Regions from separate parts of the Homo sapiens genome. Here region 2 is linked to region 1. The links come from fine-mapping of genetic effects on plasma protein levels. A gene starts in region 1. The other region holds a variant in brackets. All regions are shown on one strand. Distances are from middle to middle. Region 1 holds the start of RNASE6 (ribonuclease A family member 6). Region 2 holds the start of LOC124903282 (a long non-coding RNA gene).

What was found. PIP is the chance, under the fine-mapping model, that this variant and not a neighbour inherited with it causes the effect. Protein levels are from antibody-based Olink assays in UK Biobank. Linkage for the fine-mapping came from a reference panel and not from the study's own genotypes, which makes the PIPs less certain.
Region 2: its variant is fine-mapped to the plasma level of the RNASE6 protein (UK Biobank, PIP above 0.99).

What each region holds. Positions count from the first base shown.
Region 1 is chr14:20,776,073-20,787,067 of GRCh38, forward strand. It overlaps RNASE6 (ribonuclease A family member 6), which reads left to right and starts at 5,196. Exons shown (of 2, transcript NM_005615.5): 1 at 5,196-5,266; 2 at 5,623-6,395. The coding sequence starts at 5,628. The coding sequence ends at 6,080. All of the region lies in intron 1 of LOC107984671 (a long non-coding RNA gene), which reads right to left. RefSeq lists an enhancer at 6,271-6,340.
Region 2 is chr14:20,712,272-20,723,266 of GRCh38, forward strand. LOC124903282 (a long non-coding RNA gene) reads right to left here and starts at 3,452. Exons shown (of 2, transcript XR_007064061.1): 1 at 810-3,452. It also overlaps the pseudogene RANBP20P. The variant T/C (reference allele first, on the strand shown) is at 5,513.

The DNA of each region.
Region 1 (10,995 bases):
GCCAGGCTCTAGGCAGAATTGCACATTAATCATAGCATGCTGGTACACTTCAACCCACTTCCCTGTAGCTTCTAATTTCCCAAGTAGCATGCTGACCACCTACTCCCCGATTGTTCCTATAGGTAGAATCTCCAATACTAGAATCATGAAATCTTTTTGCTTAAGAATTGCTTAAGGTGTTTTTCTGATCCTGAATTCCAGTGCAACAGCTAATGCTAACCAGTCTAAAGACCCCTACCAAGGAACTGGCTTGGCACATGAATGCTGAGTTTCTTCATGTCCCTGTCCCATGACTTCACCTCTCACTTCTTGATGAATCAGAAATGCTCACATTTTGGCCCTTGTCCAGACTCCTTAAAAACCCTATCCCCAAACCCAAAACCAAATTGTAGGTTACCTCCCATCTACTCATTTGGCTGCCCTATGAAAATTAAACTCTCTCTTTTTCAATCCCTGTTTTCTTAATATATCCATTTGTTGTGCATCAAGTAACAAATCTGTTATGATGATAGTGGCATGAAAATTATTTTAAACTGAAAATGTCTGAACAGACAGAAGCTGCAGAAAGAAACACTATTTAAACTTAACCAGAGCCTCTTGAAAATTCAGCTGCCATTGATCCCCTTCAAAGGTATTTTCCTGTTTGAAACGAGACAGCCCCTTAGCACTGGGATGTGTAAATTAGCTTCCATAAACCCCCATACAGGGAAACTTCCAGCCAGGAAGAAATCAATCTACCCATTTCTATTAGCATCAGAAAGCTTACTAGAACCTTCCATATTTTCCTTTTGAAGCCCCAACAAAAATCTTTTATTTTTTATTTTATTTTATTTTTGAGACAGACTTTCACTCTTGTTGCCCAGGCTGGAGTGCAGTGGCGCAACCTTGTCTCACTGCAACCTCCGCCTGCCAGGTTCAAGAGATTCTCCTGCCTCGGCCTCCCGAGTAGCTGGGATTACAGGTGCCCACCACCATGCCTGACTAAATTTTGTATTTTTAGTAGAGACGGGGTTTTACCATGTTGGCCAGGATGGTCTCAAACTCCTGACCTCAGGTGATCTGCCCACATTGGCCTCCCAAAGTGCTGGGATTACAGGTGTGAGCCACCATGCCCGGCCAAATCTTTTTTTAAAAAATAGAGATGGGGGTCTTGCTATGCTGTTGGTTTCAAACTCCATGCCTCAAGTGATCCTCCTGCCTCAGTCTCCCAGAATGTTAGGATTACAGGCATGAGCCACTGCACTTGGCCAAAAACACTTTTTTTAAAGTTGATATATAACTTTACCTCTGGCTATTCAGCAAGTTACGCATTATGTAATACTCCTGTGTGCATGTGTAAATAAACTTTGAATTTTCTCCTATTAATCTTTTTCTAATTCACAAGCTCCTTTACCACCACCTTTAAAACCTAAAATGATAGAGGAAAAGTTTTTCTCCAAACAATGTGATGCTGAACATCTTTTCATTGCTCATCTGCCATCTGTATATCTTGTTTGGTGAAGTGTTGGGGTACAGAGAATCATACTACAAACTATGATGCATGGCATTCTGAGCACTTTTGAATTAAAGAAATTAAATTAAAGAATTAAATTTAACTAGAATTAAAGAATTAAAGAAACCAAAACTTCTTAGAAGCTGCCTCAGGACCAAAGATGTTCTAATCTTCTCTCATTCCTCCCCCAGCTCTCAAATGCAGAGAGGAGCTCTCTCTGGAAGTTCCCTTGTCTGGATAAGGAAAACTTCTTCCAAGAAATGCAATTGTCTTAAGACCCCCCTTTCTAAAAATCTCATCAGATAACCAGGAAATATTAGCCACCTGAAAAAAAGAAGAGACTAGAAGTCTCTTCACACCACACTCAGATAGACCTTTCATCTATTCTTCCAAGAGCAGCTCCAAAAGAGTACCTAAGAGACTTTATCTGTATAATAAGGCAACCTTTGTTCATAGTGCAGTTCCACCCTTCACCTTCCCATAACTCGTCACCCTTCCATTCAGCTTCCAAAGAGACTCATTTACAAACTATTGTCTGCTATTTGGGGCCAGTTCCCTAAAAAATATTTAAAACTCCTCAAAATTGCCTACATTTTCCCCATGTTCCTCTCCCCTATGAAGAGAATACATGAATTTCAACTATTTAGTCTTTCTTTGAGTCTCATAATTTGTATGGTTCCCATGATTATGCACAGTAATAAATTTGTATGCCTTTTTCTCCTGTTAATCTGTCTATTGTCAGTTCATTTCAGAAGTTTTGAACCTTCAGAGGGAGAGGAAAAATTGTCTTTGCCCCATACCATTCAGATGTTTTGCCCATTTTTCAACTAGGTTGTTGGTTTTCTTATGGTTGAGGTTTTTTGAGTTCTTTGTATATTTTGGATAATGTTCTTTTATCAGATATATCTTTTGCAAATATCTTCTCTCAGTCTCTGGCTTATCTTTTTATTCTCTTAATAGTATCTGTTGCAGAGCAGAAGTTTTCAATTTTAATGAAGTTCCACTTATCAATATTTTTCTTTCATGGATTGTGCTTTTGGTATTGTATCTAAAAAATCATTGCCAAACTCAAGGCTGCCTAGATTTTCTTCTATGTTATTTTCTAGAATTTTTGTAGTTTTGTATTTTGCATTAGGTCTATGGTCCATTTTGAATTAACATTTGTGCCAGGCGCGGTGGCTCACGCCTGTAATCCCAGCACTTTGGGAGGCCGAGGTGGGCGGATCACCTGAGGTCAGGAGTTCGAGGCCAGCCTCACCAACATGGTGAAACCCTGTCTCTACTAAAAATACAAAATTAGCTGGGTGTAGTGGTGCATGCCTGTAATCCCAACTACTCCGGAGGCTGAGGCAGGAGAATCACTTGAACCTGAGCGGCAGAGGTTGTGGTGAGCTAAGATCATGCCATTGCACTCCAGCCTGGGCAACAAAAGCGAAACTCCATCTCAAAAAAAAATTGTGAAAGATATAAAGTACAGGTCTATGAAAATGTATGAAGTCTAACCTATGAAAAGATTTATTTTTTGCATGTGTACATTCAGTTCTACTACCATTTGTTGAAAAGACTAACTTTTCTCAATTGAAAATTGATCCTTTGTCACAGATTAGTTCACTGTATTTGTGTGGGTCTACCTCTGGGCTTTCTACTTGGTTCCATTGACCTATTTGTCTATTTTTCACCAATAACACACTGTCTTAATTGCTGTAGCTTTATAGTAAGTTTTGAAGTTGGGTCACGTCAGTTTTCTGACTTTGTTCTTCTTTTTCTGCATTGTGTTGACTATTCTGAATCTTTTTTTTTTTTGAGACAGAGTCTCGCTCTGTCACCCAGGCTGGAGTGCAGTGGTGCGATCTCGGCTCACTGCAAGCTCCACCTCCCGGGTTCAAGCGATTCTCGTGCCTCAGCCTCCCAAGTAGCTGGTACTATAGGCGCCCGCCACCAGGCCTGGCTAATTTTTTGTATTTTTAGTAGAAACGGGGTTTCACTGTGTTAGCCAGGATGGTCTTGATCTCTTGACCTCGTGATCAGCCTGCCTCGGCCTCCCAAAGTGCTGGGATTACAGGCGTGAGCCACCGTGTCCAACCTGAATCTTTTACTTTTATATAAACTTCAGAGTCAGTTTGTCACTATCCACAAAATAATGTGCTGGGATATTGATTGAGATTGTGCTGAATCTATAGATCAAGTTGAGAGGAAATGACATCTTAACATATTGAGTATTCCTACTCATGTACATGGAATATCTGTGCTTCCTCAATTTCTTTCATTAGAGTTTTAAATTTTTCCTCATACCAATTTTTACATAATGTATTAGATTTACACCTAAGTATTTCACTTTCTTTGGTGCAATATAAATGGTATTGTGTTTTAAATATCAAATTGCAATTGTTCATTGCTGGTATATAAGAAAGCAACTGACTTTTGTATATTAACCTTGTATCCTGCAACCTTGCTATAAACAGACATTATGTTTATTCTGCAGACATTTGGAGCCATAAAAGCATGGGGCAAGAGTGTTGTACTATTATATCTTGTTCAAAAAAAGACTAATCTGGAAGTAATATGTAGAATGGATTGGAAGGAGAAAAAAACAAGGCAAGGAGTCCATGTGGGAGGCTTTTATGTGAGCCCTCCATAAGACAATGAGTTTCTGAATAAGGGTGTTGCAGTACCAGTGAAAAGGTAAGAACAGATTCAAGAGGCAAATATCCTAAATTCGGCCTTCTTCTTCAGGCTTACAGGTCTTTTCATACACAATTCTGTCTTTGGGAGGCGCTTAACACTCTCTTCACCTAACTTCTAATTATTCCTCAAAATTCAGTTCAGGTGTTGTGCCCTCCAACAATCCTTCCCCTCTACTATCTTCCCGTAGCCTCCTGCAGTGTCCTCCATCACACTGTAAGTGCTATTTATATTAATATAATCTACTTGTCTATATACTTACCTGCCTGTCTCTAATCTCTTTCATTAAATCATGAGCTCCTGGCAGATCACGAGGTCAGGAGATAGAGACCATCCTGGCTAACACAGTGAAACCCCGTCTCTACTAAAAATACAAAAAAATTAGCTGGGCGTGATGGCAGGCACCTGTAGTCCCAGCTACTCGGGAGGCTGAGGCAGGAGAATGGCATGAACCCAGGAGGTGGAGCTTGCAGTGAGCAAAGATCGCACCACTGCACTCCAGCCTGGGCGACAGAGCAAGACTCCGTCTCAAAAAAAAAAAAAAAAAAAACTCATGAGCTCCTGAATTTGTGTAGCCTAGTACCTGGCCCAATAAGTATATGCATAAATGAATAATGTATTCACTTCTGTTGTAGGAACTTACAACATTACCAAGTATGTGGCAGGCATTATATCATATTTATGTGACATATTTTCTCTTAAGAAACAGGAATCATAAAGCTTCAAAAAAAAACACTGAAGCCTCAGATGAGGCAGGAAGCACTCATTCCATATCAGGAAGTGATCAGTTCCTCAAAACTGTGAGTTTTCAGTCATGTTGTTTCTTTAAGTTGGTTTAGCCTTCCTGTATACATGTGATAATGATACTGTTTTAAAGAACAGGTGTGAAAGTCTAAGAGTTTAATCCAGACTCTGCACAAGAAGTTAATCTGCCAAACCCTAGGATTCTCCTTCTGAAAGCTCAGAATATTTCTTCCCCTTCCCTATACACACAGGGCTCGAAGGGTTAGAGAAGAAAGGCAGACAACAGCTTCTGAGCTTTGGACTAATCACAGCCTCTGTTCTCAGCAGGAGCCCCAACACTGAGACCAGGTAAGAAAGAAAGCCTCAGGGCTGGAGCGAGTAGAGCAGTAAAGACGGCTGGGAGGTAGTGGTCAGATAGAGGGTAAATATTTCAGGAGGGAAGAGGGAAGAAACTTTCTGATATGACAGCCATCAAATGCATGAGTACTTGTGAAAGAAAATGGGATATGCCAATCAAAGGAGAGGTCATATTTCTGTTTCCTGGGCTTCAGGTTCTTCATAGAATTGTGAGACTATGTGAGAAAGAAGATTTTAAAGGGAGCTGTAAAATCTTAAAAGGCAAAATAAAAATCTAAATAGTTATGATTAAAAATTTTGCTCTTATTGCTTCTCCTACTATAACTATCTTCTCTCTTTCTACACAGAAAAGATGGTGCTATGCTTTCCTCTTCTTTTACTGCTGCTGGTTCTATGGGGACCAGTGTGTCCACTTCATGCTTGGCCTAAGCGTCTCACCAAGGCTCACTGGTTTGAAATTCAGCATATACAGCCAAGTCCTCTCCAATGCAACAGGGCAATGAGTGGCATCAACAATTATACCCAGCACTGTAAGCATCAAAATACCTTTCTGCATGACTCTTTCCAGAATGTGGCTGCTGTCTGTGATTTGCTCAGCATTGTCTGCAAAAATCGTCGGCACAACTGCCACCAGAGCTCAAAGCCTGTCAACATGACTGACTGCAGACTCACTTCAGGAAAGTATCCCCAGTGCCGCTATAGTGCTGCTGCCCAGTACAAATTCTTCATTGTTGCCTGTGACCCCCCTCAGAAGAGCGATCCCCCCTACAAGTTGGTTCCTGTACACTTAGATAGTATTCTCTAAGGCATCCACTGCATTTCCTTTCATTTGACATAGCTTCTGTTACAATTGCATCCATGTTTTCTTTTCTTTTGTTGATTTTCTTGTTCCCGTAGAAGAAAGAAGAAAGGTGTTTGGAGAATTCGAGTGCCTAGGATGCCAGACCAGAGTTGAGACAAAAAGAAATAAGATTATTTTCTGCTTTGTAGTTCTGTACTTTTCGAGAGAAGGGAATAGGGAAGACAGCAAAGAAAGATTCAGATTTCTAACCCTGCAACTTTTGCCAAGCTTTATTGCCCTGTGTTCACAGCAATAAAACCACTTCCTGCTGCATTCTAATGAGTGTGTGTTTGAGATCCGCTTTCAAAGCATTGTTGACCGGTACTCAGAGGAACACTGTTTTGACTTTAAGTCCCTAGAAAACTTTTGAGGCCTCCCTGGGGCCCCACTTCCTTGCCCACAAGAAAGGACAGCGTTTGGGACTTTGGAGCATTTCTTCAAACTCTGCTCATGACTTTATATATTCCCCTGGAAACCATTGTCTATGCTTAATTGGAGGTAGTACTGATACCTCAAAGACAGTTGATGATAACTCACACATAGATTCTGTCACTGGCAACTGAAGGATCCTATGTCTTTTCTATTTGTTTCCGTTTTTAATCAGATAATGTTTTAAATATAAGGTGATAGTAGTAGTAATAGGGATAATAATCCATTGTAGTAACCTTAGGGTCAATCCTCCATTATTTATTGAAATGGATAAATAGAAAGCATAGATCAAGAAAAAAGCACTAGGCTTGTCGTGGTGGCTCACGCCTGTAATCCCAGCACTTTAGGAGGCTGAGGCAGGTGGATCGTCTGAGGTCAGGAGTTCAAGACCAGCCTGGCCAACATGGTGAAACGCTATCTCTACTAAAGATACAAAAAAAGTAGCTGGGCGTGGTGGCAGTGCCTGTAATCCCAGCTACTCGGGAGGCTGAGGCAGGAGAATCGCTTGAACCCAGGAGGTAGAAGTTGCAGTGAGCAAATATTGTGTCACTGCACTCCAGCCTGGGCAACAGAGTGAGACTCCCATCTCAAAAACAAAAAAAGAAAAAGAGAAAAGCACCAGGAGACCCAATGCAGTGGCTCACACCAGTAATCCCAGCACTTTGGGAGGCCGAGGCAGGCAGACGACTTGAGGCCAAGAGTTTGAGACCAGCCTGGCCAATGTGGTGAAACCCCATCTCTACTAAAAATACAAAAAATTAGCCAGACATGATGGCAGGAGCCTGTAATCCCAGCTAATCAGGAGCCTGAGGCAAGAGAATCGCTTGAACCTGGGAGGCAGAGGCTGTAGTGAGCCGAGATTGCACCACTGCACTCCAGCCTGGGTGACAGAGCGAAACTCCCGTCTCAAAAAAAAAAAAAAAAAAAGGAAAGAAAGAAAGAGAAAAAAGCACTAGGAAACTAAAAACATTCTAGTCCTATGTAAATACTGAAATACCACAGAAGTATTGGGGTTTTGGAACAGAACCTGAACTAAGCCATTTCACAGAAGGAACTTCAGTTTCCTTGTCAACCTCTAGAGTCATTGGGCTAGTGGGCCAGTGTAAATCCCAAGTGCTTTGTACAGTGATGAGTCTTCAAGTAGCAGCCAAAGACAATGAAGTTTTTTTGAAAAGGCTACATATTGTAGTGTCTTCATTACCTGTGCTGCAAATGATTCTTTCCAAGCCAGACTATTAGTTTAATAGATATGCTAACTCAGCTCACCTTCCTTTACGCTACACATTTATGTCATATCTTAGGAACAAAGAATGGAATATGAGGTTTCAGGAGCCTGGATTCCAGGGTGATGACTGATCAAGGGCCCTCCCATTGGGAAGAGATTAGCAGGTCAGGGCAATATGGCACCTAAGAAGGTGGGTACCTTATAGAGGGAATCCTACAGTGGGACTTGAGTGCTCTAACTCAAAGCAGCTTTCAGTTGTATTCAGCTTTAAGCCATGTTGCATTTACATTTTATTGTCTCAGAGTCTTCATGTAAAGTGTGGTGGAATGGCAGGGAGAATCTGTGCTCACGTTTGGTATGAACAAGTATACGAAAGTAGCAGCATCTGAAAGGAAAGGGGTTGAATGGATTTATATGAACATTACCTGGAAATTGCCAGAGATTCTTAAAGGTAATCTAGTAAAACCAAACAACTCAATTGCTCATGCTATTGTTATTTATATAGTAAAGGTATCTCATGGATTGAATACATCTGTGCTGCAAAAATTTTTCAACTGTCAGAAACATTAGGGAACATGAAATGTTACTTAAAATTAGTGAAATAAATTGTGAGGTCTAAAATACTGCAAATATTTTGTAACAAATGGTTAAAAACAAAAATATAATGAGTGCCATCTTTTGAAGAGATTTGCAGCAACAATATCTAATCTTCCCCACCCTCCCATGACAAACCTATCCCCAACAACAATTAGAGTCACTTTTTGTTGCTGATCAAGGAAAAGGCAACAATGAGGGTAACTTTTCAACAATCTATTATGCCCAAACTTTTAGAAGGTATTAGTTCTAAACAAGTGGAATAGACTGGGATGGAATCTCTCATAGATTTATTTTCTTTTCTACATGCAGTTATGTATTGCAGAAGTTCAATACATAATTGCTAAGAAGTTCACTTAGATATATCCCTAGAATATACAGAATGATCCCAAAGCAGGCAAAGCTTAGAAGTGAATTCAGCAGATGTTCTAGCAGCTCTCAACTCTGGCTTCATATTAGATTCACCTGGGAGCTTTTAGAAAAATACCAATGACGGGATCTACTAAATAAATTTTATGAACATTTAATGAACAATTAAATGAATATCTGGGGGTGAGACCTGGGCTCTAATGGATGTTTGTTAAAGATCCCCATGTAATTGTAATGGGCAGCAAATATTGGTAACAACTGTTGATGCAGGGGTAAGCAAACTACATCTGCAGACCTCTGGCCTGCCGCGCCTATTTTATACTGCCTGGAGTAGTGTGGTTTTTACTTTTATTTTTTTTTTTGAGATGGAGTTTGGCTCTGCCGCCCAGGCTGGAGTGCAATGGCTGGATCTCGGCTCACTGCAACCTCCACCTCCTGGATTCAAGCGATTCTCCTGCCTCAGCCGCCTGAGTAGCTGGGATTACCCGCCACCACGCCCAGCTAATTTGTTTGTTTGTTTGTTTGTTTGTTTGTTTGTTTTTTGAGACGGAGTCTCATTCTGTCGCCCAGGTTGGAGTGCAGTGGCGCGATCTCAGTTCACTGCAAGCTCTGCCTGCCGGGTTCACGCCATTCTCCTGCCTCAGCCTCCCGAGTATCTGGGACTACAGGCGCCCGCCACCACGCCCGGCTAATTTTCTGTATTTTTAGTAGAGACGGGGTTTCACCGTGGTCTTGATCTCCTGACTTCGTGATCCACCCGCCTCGGCCTCCCAAAGTGCTGGGATTACAGGCGTGAGCCACCGTGCTTGGCCGATTTTTACTTTTTTAGGGGGAGAAGAAAAAGGAGGAGGAAGAGGAGGGGGGGAAGAACAGGAAGAAGGAAGGAGTAGAGACGTGAGGGAGGGGAAGGAAGGGGAAGAAGAGGAAGAAGAAGGAGAGGAAGTGACACAGACCCTATGTGTTCCACAAAAGTGAAATATTTACTGTCTGGTCCTTTATAGAACAAAGTGTGTTGATTCCTGGTCTTCTAGACTATTCAATGGATCTTGTCCTTTGGCTGTGGCTGAGGCAGGTGGCTGGAATTCAGTAGGAAGGACGACACCTGGCAGGCTGAGAATTTTGAACTGGGGCCTCAGGAAAGTAATGATTTTTTTTTTTTTTTTTTTTTTTTTTTTTTTTTTTGAGACGGAGTCTCGCTCTGTCGCCCAGGCTGGAGTGCAGTGGCGCGATCTGGGCTCACTGCAAGCTCCGCCTCCCGGGTTCCCGCCATTCTCCTGCCTCAGCCTCCCCAGTAGCTGGGACTACAGGCGCCCGCCACCACGCCCGGCTAATTTTTTGTATTTTTAGTAGGGACCGGGTTTCACCATGTTGGCCAGGATCGTCTCGATCTCCTGACCTCGTGATCCGCCCGCCTCGACCTTCCAAAGTGCTGGGATTCCAGGAGTGAGCCACCGCGCCCGACCGTAATGAATTCTTAATATTCCTTTCTGTGCCCTGTTTCAGTCTTTTTCTGCAATGTACTCATTTCCTCTGCTTTTCTTTTTCACACAGTAAGTAGACAGTCATCCCTTTCCATCTCACTTTCTAATTTTCTCTGAAATATTATTTATTTTTGAAGGGATTCTGACTGATCCCATCCATAGATCAGACATGACCATCGGACAGAATCACATTGCAAAAAATAGCTTCCAGGAGCCTTTCTTGTGGACCATGCAGAAGAGAGGCTTAGAGAGAACTGCCCTTAAGGCTGGCCAAATGGGGTCTCTGGCCTCGCCTGTTCCTCAGGCACCCCGTTGCATCTTGGAATACCCTTCTCAACATTTTCTAAGTCTCTCATCAGTGGCTGCAGTCAGCCCAGGCTGGTAGTGCCTGGCCTGAGATCCGCATGGGATCCTATTCTCTTTCTCTCCTTTGGGGCTTTCTCCCACCCTCAACCCTTCCTTCCAGCACAGGAAGCCCTAAGGAGCTTCAGGACTCATGTCTGTAGTGTTGTCTTGGGGCCAGGACTGGTTCCAGGTGAGTTAGCCCTGGTTAGAGATGTCATAGTTCCCAGAGAAAAGGGGCTAGATAGACAATTCAATACTTTTTCTTTAACCACACAGTGTGGAAACAGAAATTGAATAACAATGTACTCTTGAGGAATAGAGGAAAGTTTATTTTAAGACAGGAGGATGTGGGACCAGTAAAAACATTAAACCACTTTTACAGCTGTACTTAGTGAGTTAGGTGGATATTTTAATTAATTTCGTCTGAAAAGAAATT
Region 2 (10,995 bases), 64 kb before region 1:
TTCCCAGGGGCCTTTATTGCTGCTATCACCTGTTTCTGGTTGGACATCAAGCTCTGCTTTCCTTGTTTTTAGTCAGAAGCCAAGATAGGTCACTTCTTGTTTACAAATCTGAGTTTTCTGAGGTGATATGTTACGTCCGTATTATATCAAATAATTTAAGATTAAGATAGTGTTAGATAGGCACCTCTCATAGTCTTGGCTTGCGATTAACAAGTCATCCAAGTATTTTAGCAGAACCCCATCATCTAGTTGAAAATCTCTGAAGCCCTTTGCCAATATTTTGCCAAAGATGGTGGGTGAGTTTTTAAAACCTTAAGAAAATACAGCCTAACAATATTGGAAGGTGTTTTTTGTTTCCAGGTCTTGCCACTCAAAGGTGAACAGCATCTGGTCCCTCTCTTCAATCAGGATGCAAAAAAAAAAAAAAAAAAAAAAGTATCTTTTAAGTCTAATACCGAAAACTACCCATACTGCCCTGGTTTATCAGTTAGTAAGGTGTAAAGGATGGGCATAGTTGGGTGAATGTCTTGAACAATGTCATTAATGGTTCCCAAATCTTGTACAAATCAATATTCATTTGAGTGTGGGTTTTTAACAGTCAGGATAGGGGCATTGTATGGAGATCTGTAAGGACATATTTGTCCATTTTTTAGAAACTTCTGTAATATAGGTTGTATCCCCTCTAAAGCCTCTCTTTTTAGAGGGCACTGTGTTTGGGGAATACCTTAGCCCCTTCATTTATTTCTGTGCACACAGGCTGTGTATTTTCAGCACTACCTGTGGTCCCATCTGCCCTCATGACTACTTACTTGCTCACAGATTGCTGGCAGGAGGCATTCTTTTTCTTCCTCGGGGTGTGTGAGCAGCATCTGCAGCTGCAAAGCTTGCTCTGGCAGGACCTGCAGATGAAGTTGTTGTTTTTCTGGAGAAAAACGTCACATGGCAATTTAGTTTACAAAGCAAATCTCACTCCAGCAAAGGAATTTGGTATTCCAGCATATAGAGGAAACTGTGTCTCAGCTCCAGATCTCTGTGTCCGGCAGTCTCCAGACTCTCCAGGGTCTGGAGAAAGGCTGTTTGCTGCATCTTGCCAGCGACAACCATCACAGGCACTGTTTTCCTAGTACTTTCAGTTTCTTTAGTGTTTCTACCTGAATAAGTCACACCAGTATTGATTAAAAAGTCAATCAATTTGTTCCCCATTGTCAATCGTACCTGAGGTTCCTGTGGGGAAATTACAACCTGCTCCAAAAGATTTGGGCCTCCTTCACTATCTGAGCTACAGTCCTGCTTTACCATCAGCCAGTATGTTTCTTCTCTGTCACTGTGTCTCCCTTCTTCTGGTTTCCCTGTCTTTTCTTTAATTTGGGGCACTCAGATTTCCAATGACCTTCCTCCTTGCAGGGGGCAGACTGATCATTACCTAGAGTTTTGTTCTGGCCACCTCCCTGTGCCTGGTTTTTCCTTTTCGGATATACATTCTTTCCACTAATTCCAAGTATATCATGGCTTGCTTTAGCTTTTTGGCCTTCCTGGCATTATATACTCTGAAGGCAATGTCCAGCAGTTGGGAAAGGTTTATTCCAAATACCCCCTCCAGTTTCTGCAGTTTTCGTTTAATATTGGATGAAAGTCACGTTTACCATTCTCATATTCTCAGGAGCTTCTGGATCATAGTCCATACACTTGTGGTAAACCTGGTAAATGCACTCCAGAAATTCACAGGGGTTCTCATCTGCCTTTGGGAGAACTGCCCTGGCTTTATTTAAGCTCTTTTACATTCTTCTCTTTAACCCTGCCAACACATGCTTTTTATAATGACTGGACAGGGCCATTCCTCCATTGTTGGGGTCCCAAGTAAAATCTGCAAGTGGAGCAGCCATTTCTATTCCTTCCCCATCCTGGGGAGAGGAGCTGACACCTTGGCCTCTCCGGGTCCTGGGCTACATTTGGTAATCCTGGGAGGGCTGGTGCCCCCAGTACCACATGGGAGGGGAAATTTAAGATATTTATGAGGCCCATATCATCAATATCCTCTTCCTTTTGGGTCTTACTATCTGGAAAGAGAAATCTCTTTTTCCCTTTTCTCTACGTCATTCACATAGACCCCTCATGTGCTGAGTCTTTGTTATGTAATAAATGCTTAAACACATGGAATCTCATTTCATTTCCCAGATCTTAGGCAAAATAACGCCAACTGTAATAAGGTGTACTAATGTAAATCACTGTTCAGTAGCCACCATTTTTCAGATTCCAACACATACATAGGCCAAACAGTGTTACAATGAAAAAAAATCATTATCTTTTTTGTTATGAGTTCATAGCTATAAGCTTTCCAATAAGCCAATATACAGCCCAATGGCCACTTAGATGGAATGGAAGTCAAGTTGCCCATTCTCAGGGGAGAGATCAAAAGAACACAAACACACAGATCAACACAGAGTACTCCTGAACCAATTCCTGTAGAAGGAGACTGGGAAGTTAATAAATCTTAGGCTAACTGATACTGCAAAAGACCTGTGTCAGGTCCAAATGGCATAAAGCCCAAATGGCAGAGACAGAGGATTTCTAGCATGCAAACTGGTTTGATTTACCCAGTCTTGAATCCTGTCAACTTCCTCAACTATCATTTTCCTTATACTAATAAAGCATTGCAGGCAGCTGATGCCACAGAGGGGGAAGGAGGGAAAAGATGTTCTTGGCAGCTGCTGGGACAACCCTAGAATCCCAGCTGGGAGGTCAGCTAGCCACGAGCAGCTAATCCTCATGAGAAGTTGTTGCTCTGCCTGGTAGCATGAATGAGTAAGCCCTGGCATGATGCCACAGCCAATTGCTCCATCCATCGGAAACCAGGCACGCTAGACCAGTAGAGACATATAGCCCCATGCTGGGTGATAAAAAATGTAACCAAACTGTTGGAAGTAAGTGCTCGGTGCCACAGAGTGAAAATAGCACTCAGGCAAAAATTTTCTCAGCAAAGCAATTTACTTCTATAGAAGGGTGCATCTCTCAGATGGAGCAATGGTGAGAGCACACCAGACAAGGGAGGAGAAGGGCGTCTTATTCCTAATGCAGCTAGTCCCTACTGCTGTGTCTTTCCCCTGTTGGCTAGGGTTGGACCACACAGTCTAAGCTAATTCCAGTTGGAAATTTTAAAGAGAGTGAGTGTATGAGCTGGAGTGGTGGGGTGAGTAGTTTCATCAGGGAAGGACAGTTACAGAACAGGAGAGTAAGGATGCCTAAGGACAGAACAGGTGATAGAGGCTAGGAGGGGGTTGTTTACTGAAACTAGAGGCAAGGAGGTGTAAAGAACAAGGAAGTTAAACTTCAAAATGGAGAACAAAGAACAGGGAAGCTGAACATACTGACGTATTTGTTCTTTGAAGAGGAACTCAGAACTCATTGTACTTAAATGATTTTTTTCTCCCTCTTGAATTTTTTTTTTTTTTTGAGATGGAGTCTTGCTCTGTCACCCAGGCTGGAGTGCAGTGGTGCAATCTAGGCTCACTGCAAGCTCCGCCTCCTGGGTTCACGCCATTCTCCTGCCTCAGCCTCCTGAGTAGCTGGGATTACAGGCACCCGCCACCACGCCCGGCTGATTTTTTTGTATTTTTTAGTAGAGACAGGGTTTCACCATGTTAGCCAGGATGGTCTCAATCTCCTGACCTCATGTTCTGCCTGCCTTGGCCTCCCAAAGTGCTGGGATTACAGGCATGAGCCACCACGCCCAGCCACCATCTTGAATTTTAAAGGAAGTTAACAGGCTAACTCTGAAGAGGAATTTACTGTATCCTACAATCTCCCCCCTTTCAATTTTCATAGGCCTTCCTCTTCAAACCTTTTTAACATGTCTTGGCTTTGCTGCTTGACTTGATCCTCTAAAAGAAGAAAGCTTTTCTGAATAAGGTGGAGGAAAGTTAAGGGAGGTTTTAGTAGGTGCTGTTTCTTTGCACTGCCCCACGGACGCATGGTATGACACAATACCCAACAAGAATGAGTACACCTATTACGGCTGCAAGAGAAGTAAGAATCGAGGCTATGATCTTTTCCATCTACTGAACCACCTTTCTAGCCATCCTGAGAAAGGGTTATTGACTCCAGAATCTTTAACTAATTCATTGGATAAAGCAGTAAGTCCTTGTAAGACCCTTGTTATGCTCCCAGTGGGGGCAGTGTTGCTTGGGATAAAGGTACAGCCCTGAGTTTTAATCATAACACCAACACTGCCTTTTTCAGCTAATATCACATCTAGGGCCATTCTGTTTTCCCAGGCCATCTGGCTAGTGGGCCCCAATTGTTCTGCTATCCCTTTGACAGCATCCCTGGTGTAATTAATAAACCACTGCTAATTATAATAGACGTAATTTATCCAATCTATGTTTTTATTAATTGTCACCCACAAAATCCTGCAGCTATTTAATCTTGACTCAAATCCTGCAGCTATTTAATCTTGATCTTTAAATTTATCTGGTACTCCTCATGGGACTCCAATTGCATCTAAATAAATGTGGGAGTTGAAAGACCCATAAGGAGCTTCCCTTGTTTTATGATGTTGTATTTTTCCTCTCTCTGGTTGATGAAATGCTAGGGTGGAAGGGATAGCCAATTAAACTAGAGCACAAGTGCTGCTCCAGTTACTTGGCAGAGAGTCCAGTAAAGGTCCACCACAATACCACCATACATATGCTTGGGGATGAACAAGGGCTGACTGATTGGTAAGCTCTTGGAAAGTCTTAAGCTCACTGCATCTTTTTAGGTCTCCAAGGAATGCTAAGTTTCCTCCCTGTAGTGAGAGATATGAAGTGAACTTAGCGTCAGGGGACAGAAGCTGAGTGGACCTTGGGGGCTGACCTGCAGGGTATTGAACCTCAGGATATAGCAGAGAGAGCTTGACACGACTTTTTACCCCAGGCTGTGTAATCCTGGAAAAAAGTAACCATACAGCCCATGCCTAGTAGACTAAAGGACTATCCTAATGGAAAGGGGACAATCTGGGCTTCTGGTCTGCCGTGCGCACAAGCATAACAAATGCTTTTGTTTAAAGTGTGGATGGAATGTTTGATCCACTCCAACCAGGCATTAGCATCTTGATATTCTGTCTCAATTGCCAAAGTTTGTTTTAGGTCTTTAACTTCTATAATAACTACCTTGGTCTTGTCATTAGATGGAGGAGAACAACAGTTTTGTTGTGAGAGCTTCTGGAAGAAGGCTTAAGGGAAGGTGTAGGCGGCAGAGGATCAATGAATTGTGTTTCAAAGGATCTGATAGGGTCTGTTCCTGAAACCTCAGCCCCCACACCATAAAACCGGCTTAAAGAAGGGAACCGGCTTAGAGAAGGGGAAGAGCTTTGAGGGTTTGAGATAATAACCTGTATTGGATTGCACGGTTCAGCTGACAGCTAGGTGAAGCTGTTCCTTTAGTAAAGTGAATATATGACTTTAGGAAATTACAACCACTGGTTGGGGCAGCTCATCCTTGCTCTTTAGTGGTCCACAGAATGTTGGACCAACTG[T/C]GGCATAAAAGCTCTGTCTTGCAGGAGCAAGACTCCCAGCTGATACTGGGGTCTTTATTGAAATCTCTCCAGACTAAATGATCCCCATTCACTAATGTCCAGTCTGAGGAGAGCCGGGAAGGACAGAGGTACTTTTCTGAATTGGAGAGCTGTCTTTAACTTGACAAGTCTCCACAAGGTATAACAAGGCAAGCATCAAATGTAATAGTTTGAGGTGAAATTGACTTTGTTACATTAATAATGAGGTGGTCAGCAATAGAATGAGGAAAGAAGAAGGAGTAATAAGAGAGTTAAATTTTTCTTAGCTTGGCTCACGCCTGTAATCCCAGCACTTTGGGAGGTCGAGACAGGTGGATCGTTTGAGGTCAGGAGTTCAAGACCAGCCTGGCCAACATGGTGAAACCCCATCTCTACTAAAAGTACAAAAATTATACAGGCGTAGTGGTACACGCCTGTAATCCCAGCTACTCGGAAGGCTGAGGCGGGAGAATTGCTCGAACCCGGGAGGTGGAGGTTGCAGTGAGTGAAGATCGCACCACTGCACTCCAGCCTGGGCAACAGAGCAAGACTCTGTCTCAAAAAAAAAAAAAATTTCTTAGCTTTAGTTTGGTAGGGTTTTCCCCTGGGACTATGGCCCACGACTCTGGAGGGGGCGGCACTTTCTTGACTTGGGTGTGATAGGTCCATCCTTTTTCTGCTGTCTGGACTGCGCTTTCAGTAGTTAGGAGCACTAGATAAGGTCCTTCCCAGGCCAGTTCCAGCTTTTCCTCCTTCTAGTTTTTGATGAGGACTTGATCCCCGGGCTGATTTCGATGTACTGGGAACTCCAGGGATGGTGCCTGTGCTAAAAGACCTTTAGTTCTAAGGGAAGAGAAAGTGGAAGATAAACCAAGTATATAATGTCTGAGAAACTGATCTTTTGTTTCGAAGGTGGAAATGTCAGCAGTGGAGTGTAAATAGGGCAACCCATATAGCATCTCATATGGGGATAGGCCAACATCTTTTTGAGGGGTGGTTCAGATTCCTAGCAAGGCAATGGGAAGGCATTTAGTCCATGGCAACTGAGTCTTTAAGACTAATTTGGTTAAGTGACTCTTCACGGTTTGATTTATTCTTTCTACTCTTCCCGATGAAGGTGGGTGCCAAGGAGTATGGTATTCCCACGTTATGTCTAGTGCTTGGGCTAATTTCTTAATGATATGTGCAGTGAAATGAGTTCCATTATTTGAATTAATATTTTCAATTTATTTGCCCAGATCCATTGGAGGAACCACTATCTATGACCGCTATAGTCTTATGAAATGTATTTCTGAAGTAATAAGACTTGAAAGCCAAAATTACTCCTTGATCCATGGGCTGCAGAACTGCAGAACGGATGTTGTGTGAGCAGGCATGGAAACTATGGAAATTAATATCTTTGAACATCTCCATCAGAGGCCTTAGGTAACCAAGTGCATTGCCAATCAGCAGTAGTATTTTGAAAGGAATCTTTTTTTTCTGAGCAGGTCTCAATAATGAGCTTAAAATATTCAGTAAACCATGATGTAAACAGATGTGCTGTCAATCAGGCTTTGTTGTTCCATTTATAGAGACAGGCAAAGTAGATTCAGCATAATTCCTAAGGGCCCTAGGATTTTCAAATGATACATGAGCACTGGCTTCAACCTGAAGTCTCCAGTGGCAGGTGCCCCCTGACAAGAGAGTTGGCCTGCCCTCTGAAGCTCTGAAACCAGGCACTGACTCCTCCTCTCTAGCTATGGGAGTCCCAGATGGCACCTTCTTCCACTATAAAGCTGTCTCATCTACACTGAAAATCTGTTGTTTAGTGTGGCCACCTTCATCAATGATCTTATCTAGAGCTTCTGGAGAACTTGCTGCAGCTTCTCCTCAGGACTTGCTGCTTCATCCTGCACTTTTATGTTATGGAGATGGCTTCTTTCCTTAAACCTCACGAACCAACCTGTGTTGGCTTACAACTTTTCTTCTGTAGCTTCCTCACCTCTCTCAGCTTTCAGAGAATTGAAGGGCCTGATCTGGTTTTGACTTTGGCATAAGAGAATGTTGTGGCTGGTTTGGTCTATCCGAACCACTGAAATTTTCCCCGTGTCAACAACAATAAGGCTGTTCTGCTTTCTTATCACTTGTGTGTTCACTAGAGCAGAACTTTTAATCTCCTTCAAGAACTTTTCCTTTGCATTCGCAACTTGACTAACTGGCTCAACAGCATTTGGCCTATCCTAGCTTTTGACACGCCTTCCTCACTAAGCTTAATCATTTCTAGATTTTTAAAGTAAGAGACATGTGACTCTTCCTTTCACTTGAACACATAGAGGTCATTGTAGGGTTACTAAATGGCTCAGGGAATAGGGAGTCCTAAAGACAGGAAGGTGGGGAAGCCGCCAATCAGTGGAGCAGTCAGAACACACACATTTATCAATCAAGTTTGCCATCTTCAGTTTGTGGCACCCCAAAATAATTACAATAGTAACATCAAAGATCACTAACCACAAATTACTGTCAGATATAGTCATAGAAGAAGTTTGAAATATTCTAATAATTACCAAAATGTGACACATGGAAGCACTAAATGCTGTTGAAAAAATGGCGCTGACAGATTTGCTCAATGCAGGGTTGCCATAAGCCTTCAACTTGTAAAAAACACAGTATCTACGAAGTGCTATAAAGGGAAACACAACAAAACGAGGTGTGCCTGCACAACCAATGCCCAACTGTGTGTACCGCCTGAAGGAAAATGTTTCAAAGGTATCACAACTTTTTAGTCTGGAAATCTGAACAATATTTTGGTTTTTCACAGTGAGCATGTGGAACTTATATAACCAAAAAAGTAAAGTTGTATTTGAATGCATGTGGGCTACAAGTAAAAAGGAAGATGAAATAACAGTTTTATAAAGCGGAAAGATTTATGGGTCTAACTCTGTGTCATATTTAGATTTTCTAATAAATGGGTATAGGAACAGAAGGAGAGACAGAGTTAGATAAAAGGTGTAGACGGTAGGCTTTGCTGCTTCGAGAACTTGGTGCTGATTAGAGGTGTGATTGCATTCATGGTAATAGGGATGAGTGTCACGAACTGCTGTGTGTTCTGCTGGTGAGCTTCACTGCAATACTGCACTAACCAGTGAGTGTAAGCCTGCAGCACAGCCAGGGACTGAGCACGTACATCAATGAGGTCAGGTTTCAATACTGATGGCACATCAGTTTCAATGTTGCACAATTTTTTTTTTTCTTTTTTGAGACGGAGTCTTGCTCTCTTGCCCAGGCTGGAGTGCAGTGGCACGTTCTCAGCTCACTGCAACCTCTCCCTCCCTGGTTGAAGTGATTCTCCTGCCTCAGCCTCCCGAATAGCTGGGACTACAGGCACGTGCCACCGTGCCCACCTAATTTTTTGTGTTTTTAGTAGAGACAGGGTTTCACCATGTTATCCAGGATGGTCTCAGTCTCCTGACCTTGTGATCCACACACCTCGGCCTCCCAAAGTGCTGGGATTACAGGCGTGAGCCACCGCACCTGGCTCAATGTTGTACAACTTTATCTGAGATCCATACAGAGTGACTTTGACCAAACTCTCCACAACTGTGAGGGCATCATTGAACCATGCAGCAAACACATCCCCAATAAAGTACCCGGCCAGGTGGCCCATGGCCTGCAGCAGGGAGCTCAAGTCTCTCAGGGAGCAGTGCAGCCACCAGCAGTCGTTCTCTGCCATGATGTTCAACCTGTGTCCTGACCCTGATGTAACTATAACTTGCTGTAATCCCAAATAAACTTCTAAATTGCCCTGAAGAACTGGGAACAGTGTGGACAACGTGTGCGTGGGCAGGAGCTCCATCACTTTGACCGCCACCTCCAAGCTCTGCCGTAAGTACCGCTGTCACTCCATCTGCTGATCGTCATCCAGAGTCTCGTCATCCAACTCCTCCAGCTGGCCTGGTTGTATCTGAACTGGATTTGATTCAACACCTCTGTGGGGAGGAGCACCAGGGCATCTTCGTACCTGTTGAGAACTGCTTCCTTGTCTTCAAGATGACTTTTAATTTTATTTGTCAGATAGTCCAAAAAGAGTGTCCAGTATCCAAACAAGAGAATTAACCTTCATGAGTAGGCTGATGAAATGTGTACTTGAACAAAAGTGTCAAAAACTCCACCACAGAGAACTGGGAGTAAGACTCGATTCTTCTTAGGTGAACACTCACAAAGAGCCAAAGAAAGTCAGTAAACTTCTCAATAAAGCTCTCATCGAGCTCTTCTAGCCTGCTCTTCACTGTGTGGGCATTGTTATCCTTGGTGATCTTCTGCAGGAGGTAGAAAGTCTGCTGGAACATAAGCAGTAAATACTCCTCGAACTCCATCGGCACACAGCTCTTGGAAATGAGTTCACTGATGCAGGGCATGGCCAGGACCCCCGGCCGGCTCCGCTCCTGAACCGAGACACAGTTCTGGCTGCTGCCGTTAACTGACGCCATCTTTCTGGCACGGATGTCACAGCCAAATCACGCAAAGTGGAAGGTGGTGGTAAGGAGGGATGGGGTGATGCCGGCAGACAGAGGAATACAACTGAAGAGATGGGCTAGGCACTCCAAGGCAAGGGAACAGATATACTCACTCACCACATCAAGGATGGGAATTGGCTGATTCAACAGTTTGGCTGAACTAGGACTCTGCCACAGGTTACTCAGTAAGTCACCACTTTCTCCTGTCGGGGAGGGTGGTGGAGTGGCAGCAGTAACACTGTGTTTGTCCCAGACAGTCCCCAAGATAGCGGTCAGCAGCCCAAGCACTGTCTGCACCTGGTCCAGTGGCAGCTTCTGCAACTCCTCCTTCCAAGCCACACTGAGGTCCTCGTGGGGACAAGCCAGCTCCTCTGAAGTTGTCTTCAACATGATCGGCCCAAGGGGGGTTGTCACAGGGGATTGGTTCAACTGCAAAATGTTAGTAAAAAAGTCATGGTAGAACATGGGCCGATCCTGACGTCCAATATCAACAATAACTTTGCAGAACTTGCTCTGGATAAAGTAAGGTAAGGTTTTATGGTGAGCCAAAAGGAGTTTGGGCAGTCAGCTGTGGATTTCCATCTCATCCTGAGATGGGACCCCAAGCCACATTTTATTGATCAGATTCTCAAAAACTGTTAAACTGTACATCATTACATAGCCATTCCTAGTGCTGGAGAGAAAGTACAGGAAGAATCTCCAGGCTCCTATTTGCTGGGCAATGTTATTAAGAAGCTCCTCTATCTCACGTTTTCTTTCATTGGTCGTACCATCGTGAAAAAGTTCTGTCATCAGCCTTTCCAATGCTCTGAGAGGGGCTTCTTCAGATGCCATGCTGGCCGGGGAGGGGGCGGCTCAGATGAGCTGGTTCTTGGGCTTTGGACACATCCTACTCGCCCAGTTCAGGTCATGGTCCCGGCAGACTAGGGAAGTCCCCTACCCATGCAAAGATAACCCCTTCCCCCCCGGGCC